Linked DNA regions of Homo sapiens. The protein of the gene in region 1 interacts with the protein of each later gene in a pairwise test. Each region holds a gene or a part of one and is shown in the gene's direction. Other genes may lie near its edges.

Evidence for each region.
Region 2: the proteins of AKAP19 (region 1) and RALGPS1 interact in a two-hybrid assay, tested with the Homo sapiens proteins (one large-scale study listed by BioGRID and IntAct).

Annotation. Positions count from the first base shown.
Region 1 is NC_000002.12:190,183,682-190,187,506, forward strand, and holds part of AKAP19 (small membrane A-kinase anchor protein), read left to right. Parts: intron 1-3,825.
Region 2 is NC_000009.12:126,920,957-126,924,781, forward strand, and holds part of RALGPS1 (ras-specific guanine nucleotide-releasing factor RalGPS1), read left to right. Parts: intron 1-3,825.

The DNA of each region.
Region 1 (3,825 bases):
TGAGACTGCCCTTCTTCTCCATGTTTTTATAGAGGTTGTCAGAATAGTTCTGTGCTGACATCTGCAGGTTCTTTTGGTACCCTGGAATATAATTCACCAGAATGTGAAGGCATGGACTATTTTAAAATGACCTCTTCTGCTTGCACCTTAGTTCTCTCTTAGTGAGGTTTCCATACTTTCCAGCTTGAAAATCATTTGCTTTTAAGGGAGCAAAATGTTGCTGAGCAGTTTTGTTTTCTTTCTCATTAGAATACGCTATCTATCCTTGGATTTGAGAATTTTAAAATGAGCCTTTCTTACTATACTTTCCATATAGTAAGTATACTATGCACAACATGCACTAAGTCGGTGGTTGAGAAGTAGAACCACTCATGGTGTTATAATGTTAAAAGTTTTGGCAGTAGTAAATAACTCTAATCAGTATCTCACATGGGAAGAGCCTTGTATTTTAAGAATGAATTTATTCCTTGTAAGTTAAAAGTTGTGAAATTAAGAGTGTTTCACAAGGGGCTGAAGGTAACATAAATTAGTGAAGCTGAATGGGAGGGAGTAACAGATATGTGACCCAAAGAGTGAATGCCTAGCTTAGAAATATTCTAATTCAGAACAGTTTCAACACTGCATTGGCCCAACAAAACACTGGCCCAAACACTACTGCAAGTTTGTAGTCTTTGCATGTAAACAGCCTGCAAGAGGCAGAACTATGTAAATTTCACTGTGTTCTTCCCAACATCTAACATACTATAGGCACATGGATAGTTGATAAATAGGAAAACTTTAGTAAGCATTCATTAATCGCCTTGATGTAGAGAACTGTTCTGTACAAAATAAAGAAAAAAATAACTCCTGCCCTTGAGGAATATCTAATCTCATTTGGGGAGACAGCATTTATAAATTAAAGACTAGACTTCAGTTCAAGAACAGAATTCTGAGGAAGGGCGGGAGGAGGACTAGGAAGTCTGCAATAAGGAGATACGGCTTCCCCTATCCTCAAAGATAGTACTTGGGTTTAAGTAAGGAACAGGGGAAAGGGTGCTGGGTGGAGATAAAGGCGAGGTGGTGTGTTTCAACTTAAAGGAGGACTAGGAGTAGGAAATGAGAATGGGTGAGCCAAGGAGACTCACTTGATGGGAGAGGAAATTTCCTTGTATTAGTGAGAAATTAAGTCCATTGGGTAAAAACAGGGCTTTAAAAAATGGTTACATTAAATGTACCTCTCTTCCCCCAAGACACTGTACTGTTAGGCCACAGAAAATAGGAACCATACAGTAACTCTTTAGGTAAAGATGTGGAGTATATGGATCATGAAAGAACTATGAAACTTTAAATGGCAAAATTTTCTGAATTTCTTGGTCCTCTGACCTAGAGTCCTAGTGAATTTGAACACTGTTCTTCCATGTCTCTATACCAGAGTAATGATTCTTTTCAGTGCTCAAAATTACATATACTGCTGCCTAGAATTTAATTCAGTGCACAGCACTTAACACTCTTTTATTAATTTATGCCTCCTACTTGTTCTAAAATGAAGTGGTTTTACTACATAAAGACTAATAGAAATTGAATTTGTAGGGGAGGAAAAAAGCTGTCCTCTACCCTCTTAGGTTTGTGACCAAGGCCTGTGAATCAAACTGATAAAAGAGTAATGGCATAAATAGAACAGATTTAAACACACGTATGCACAGGAGTTTGCAAAAGAAATGTGACTGGAGGAGGTGGTTAGAATTTGGGGCTTATCTACCAACTTAACAAAATGATAAAGCGGGAAGAGGTTCTAGATCAGATTTTCTTTACTAGTTGGTCAGAGCTCCTTTTCATTTTTCTGTGAGGATTTATATTATGGTGCTGGAGGAATTGCTGCAGATTGAAGGTCAACATTCATGGCCATAAATAGGAGTGGCCAGATGAAGCCACCTGGTAGCCAGAGTGAAGCCCAGAAGGGCTTAGGGAAATACCTGCTTGTGTATGTGTGTGGTTTTTTTCCTCTACCTGGAGGACCTGGTAAATGAGATGAAGTATTGATACCTGGACTTAAGACATCTATCGCCTGTTCAACAGTTAGTCTATCATCTAATTGTTCAAAATCCTAAATTACTGTTGTCATTCTTAGATTATAATTCTCTTTCCTCAATTATAATCTGGAGATATAATACAACACTTAATAATTAGATGTTAGTAGCTTTAGGAGACAATCTGGAGAGATAAGAAATGGAAATAACACAGAACATGTTCCACGTTCCAAGGGAAGTTCTAGATGCTTTACATATAGATTCACAATTTTTATTTTTTTGAGACAGAGTCTTCACTCTGTCGCCCAGGCTGGAGTGCAGTGGTGCGATCTTGGCTCTCTGCAACTTCTGCCTCCCAGGTTCAAACGATTCTGCTGCCTCAGCCTCCCTAGTAGCTGGGATTACAGGCATATGCCACCACACCTGGCTGATTTTTTTAGTTTTAGTAGAGATGGGGTTTCACCATGTTGGCCAGGCTGGTCATGAACTCCTGACCTCAGGTGATCCACCCACTTTGGCCTCCCAAAGCACTGGGATTACAGGCGTGAGCCACCATGCCCAACCAAAATCACAATTTTTAGATGACTGAGGTAGAGCCCAGTTCACAGATAAAATCATACCATACCGCTTTATTCAGGTTTATTAGAATCTCAAACATTGTCTCATTTCTTAACAATGTTATTTTCTCTGCCTCTCTATTGAGAAATTTTGGCCCCAAGTGTGACCACATGGAGTCATCCTGAGCCCATCCTGTCAGTGACCAGCTGTACAGTGTGTGTGCTCTAAGTGCCTAAGGATGAAACCGACTTCTCAGTTTCTAAGGTCCCTACAGTAGTGTTCTTTCGGTGACCTTCATACTGACCAAAGTCATATATACAGTATTTTGTAGCTTTTCCTTTTTGGTGAAAGACAAAGAACACTACATTTAAATTATGTCCATTTCTGTTTGCCTGTTTAACCAATGTCATTTGATCCTGTTGTGAATTTATAGTCCAAGTGAATGATTCTCAATACTCCCAGTACAAAGACCTCCACTTACTGTCCAGTTTTCACGGAGCCCTACAAGAAAGTATATTCTTAGTATCCATTATTAGAGAACATATAATGACAAATATGTTACTAGGAACTGAGATATATGTATTTTTTATAAACTTATTTTTTATTTTTTTTGAGACTGAGTCTCACTCTATCGCCCAGGCTGGAGTGCAGTGGCGTGACCATGGCTCACTGCAACTTCCGCCTCCCAGGTTCAAGTGATTCTTGTGCCTCTGTCTCCTGAGTAGCTGGAATTACAGGCACCTGCTACCATGCCCAGCTGATTTTTGTATCTTTAGTAGAGATGGCATTTCACCATGTTGGCCAGGCTGGTCTTGAACTCCTGACCTCAGGTGATCTGCCCACCTCGAGTTATGTTTTAATGAATTGGTATTTTTATTAATCACATCTACACTGAAATTTGAAAGACATTTTATATATATATGCATAAAACTTTTTCAAAGACCACAACATGGTTTTTTTATATATTTACATTAATTCAGGGTGAGACCAATTTTAAGCAATAACTTGAGATATAAGGCATCTTAGAAACCTGTGTAAAGGCTTAAGAATATGACATAAAATGGGACAATGGTAAAATAAACCATCCCTGTTAATCCAGTGTTTAAGATGGACTTCTGGGGAGTTAGCAGCCTATTCGTTTACACAGCAGATTTTAGAAGTTACTTTTTTTTTTTTTTTTTGCTGGTTTTGTGTTTGGGTCCAACTCATGTCCAAATTATGGCCTTTTTGTGATACCTTCCACTGGCATATTCCCAAGGAA
Region 2 (3,825 bases), on another chromosome or scaffold:
GCTCTGAGTCTTGGTTTACTGATTTGGTAAAGTGGGGATAGCAGTTTTACCTAACTTAGGGCTGTTGAAGATTTCAGTGAAATAATGCAGTGCAGTGTTTAGCACAGTGCCTGCTGGGAAGCTAATGCTTACAGAGTGCTCACTATTGTAATTATACGTGATGCTGTGGGAGAACCAAGAAGCACCTCTTGAGCTGTTTCTCAGGATCCTAGTGATAGTGTCGTGGTCATGATGAAAGTTAGGTATTGAATGTGAAGGTCAAGTCGTCTGAGAGATCAACTCTGAAGTCACCAAGCGCTCAAGGAGTCCTCAGGACCTTCCTCACTAGCCCTGTGGCTGATATTATGGCTCCAGGGCTATAGGCTTGTCTGTAAGTGTTTCCTCCCCACTTTCTGCGTGAGCTCTTCTGAAAGATACATTTCACCTGTCATCATTGTGAACACCTTTTCTTTGTCTGAGTACCTGCACTGATCATTCCATGACTTCTCCCCAAGGAGAGGCATGAGTTGTACTTGTCTCACCTGTGCTTGCTGAGGAGCGCAGAGACCTGAAGACCCAGAACAGCAAATAATTCCTTGGTTTTTCTGTAGAGCTTTCAAGTCTGTCGTGTTCTTCTTTGCAGGAGATTTATCTCCTGAGCATCAGAGAGGCAGATAGGGCAGTGCTTAAAACACGGACTCTGGAGTTGGGACACAAACAGATGTGGGTTTGTGTCCTGACACCATCACTCACAAGCCATGTGGCTTTGAGCAAATGACTATACCTCTGTTTCCTCATCGATACAAGAGGTGAGATAGTACGCGCCTTTGTGTGGTTCGTACAGGGTTTCAGGGAGACGCTACAAAATAGGGCTTAGCAGAGGGCTTGCACATTGTGAGCACCCAGGAAGTGGGAGCTAGAATAGTGTCCTCTTTTCACCCAGGGTAGTAAGATTTTTAGGATGCTTTTCTCAGGGTATTAATGTATTGTCTGTGGAAGTTATATGAGTTACTGCACAAGCAATGTGTTAAAACACACATGTACTTGGTGATGGGGGGCTGGGAAGCATGTCCAGGGTGGCAGGCAGAACTCTTCCTGCGCTGGGATTGCAGAGGCAAGCCTCAGCTCCCACAAAGACATAGGGTACTGGTGAGGGAGAGGACGGAGCCATTCTGGGCGCGTTTGTCTCAGGCCCATTTAGGAACTGGGGGCTGCTTCTCAAGTTCTTTCTGTTTAATCATTCCATTATTCCGTGTAAATGATTGGTCTTTAATATAAACTGATAATACAACATGATACTTTCCCTCTTCAGGATTTAAATATTTATTTTTTAAGGTTAAGTCAATTTTTGAGTAAGCAGAAGAAAATTTGAATCTTTGGCCTTGACATCATAGGTTTCTTTTAAAATCATCTGAGATGAAAGGAAGAATAGGGAATGTATTTAAGTCCATGTTTATTGGATACAGTAATTATCACCCACTGTTGTATAAGCCTGATAACTAGGGCAAGGGAAGTTTGTGCTTTTGGCATATTTCTGAATAATTAAATATTTATGGAAAACAAGTTAATAGATTCAAGACAATTTGCTGTGTCTTTCTCTGGCATAAAGTTCGTTATGTGGAATTACAGAGAGGATTAGTCCTCTGTGCATCTGTTTATTTTTTCCTTCTAGGCACCATATCTCTAACACTTTCAGTCCACTAGCATTTATAGATTGCTCTCCTACTGGGCTCCCACAACTCTCTCACTGTGTGCCCTGCCTTAGCATATAGTACAATTGTGCCCACCAGTGACTCCCTCATGACCTTTCTCTAGACTTTACAGAGTGAGAGTCCACATTTGTTCTTGCGTATTCAGGGCCTACCCCAGGGCTGGTACAAGGCAGCCAGAATGGTCTGAGCATGCCATTCCCTTTGCTTAAAAGCCTCCAGTGGCTTCTAATTTCTGTCAGAAAAAAGACCACATCATTAGCATGGCCGGTGAGGTGTAAGAATATGCTTTCTAGGGTAATTGCTGGATATGTCTGTCTCTCCTGGTGCAGTACAGTCCCATCAGGTCATGGGCCGTGACTGTTTTGCCCACCAGCAGGTCCTCAGTGCCTAGCCTAGCATCCGGCCTGTAGTAGATGCTCCTTAAGTGTTTATTGGATGAACAAATGGAGTAAATAGTGGGCTCCCAGTGACTGATCTGAATCTATAAAATGAGAAGGTTGTTAGATCGGAGGTTCTGTCCATTATACAATATCTCAACCCTTTACAACACTTAAAAAGGTCTCTTCACACTTTTTATTCCAGCCTTATGTTGATTCTGCAGGTAGCTAGGGCAGGTTTTGATGTGCATAGAAGACAATGGAAGCTTAGAGAGGTTAAACACATTGCCCAAGATGTAGCTGTGAGAGAAGCTGAGGGTCCTAACGCCTCAAGTGCCTGTTCTCATGCTCCTGGCTGCCTCAAGGTGTGGCTTCTGACACACTCATTGTAGAAGTCGCAGGTGAGATAAGGTGACAGGGCTTCATTGGAAAAAGGTACTTATAATAGTTTTTCTTGGTTTTAGATATTTCAGTTTCCAGATAATTGAATTTGAGGAGTTGAGTTAAATTTGGAATGATGGGTTTAAGGTCTTGTTTCATGCTTATGGGTCAGAAAATACTGAACTTTCCTGTAAATGGCTAAAGTATAGTAATGCTTGGTACCTGTGATGATTAGTTTGTAACTAGGGTTAAAATTTGTGTTCTTGTTGAGAAGACACAGTCTTGCTGAGTCACCTGGGCTGGAGTGCAGTGGCTATTCACAGGTGCGATTATAGCACACTACAGCCTTCAGCTCATGGCCTCAAGCGATCCTCCTGCCTCAGCCTCCCAAGTAGCTCCCAAGTGCCACTACACCTGGCTGACAACCTTTTTTGGTAAGATTAGAAGTTACTTGCTGATTGATATGTAGCATCCTTTGCTGTTTTCAGAAGATACTTGTTGTTTCAGTTAGTTTATTTCTTTAATGTATCTCTGGCTATATCTGCTATGGGACACTTTGGCAATGAGCATCACTATGGCCTTTGTGCTTATCACATATAGTGTCCGTCTATCCTGATGGTTACCAATCATTGAGTCTACTCTTTCCACTTTCCAGATGAGGATGGAGGCTTTGTTAGAGTTTCATACTGAAGTGCCCTGATTCCCCACCTGACAAATCCCATGAACTGGAACATGTCCATATGCATGTAACAGTTTCTCAACAGCTGCCTGCAGTTCATATACTGCTGCTAATAAACCATGCCCACGGTGAAGCATTTATCCCAGATGAAAGTGTCTGCTTCAGGGGCCTTTGTTGAATCTGCAGTGTGACTGTATAGGAAAAGGATGCAAACTTGACTTAGCCCACAGCTCCAATATCTAGTCCAGTGTTGGTGGCTAGTTAAGAAAAGACAGTGCCTGTTGTGGTCTGTTAACATGATAATCATTTCAGGGGGTTCTTAAGGACTAAGAGATTCTTGGAACCTAGTTTTATCAATATAGCCAGTAGTACTTGTTGAACAGAGAAGCAGCCTGGTATATAGAAAGATCAATGAATATGAAGTCAGAATGCCAAATGTGTCCATTTGCTTTGAGACTCCCACTTTCCATGTAAACAGGAATATCTTTGGTGTGCATGCATCCTTTTTCAGTAGGAAAGCCCCAGTTTTAATATCTGAGATTGTGTTATGAGGCTTAAGTCAGAACAAAGAGAGCTGGATGATGATAAAGGATTGTACCAATAACTGAAGGTAGTCTTATTCCTTATTCTTCCCTGTCCTCCGTAACTACTTGCCTACTAGCCCATCTGGCCATCCATCCATCCATGCAGTTCTTGT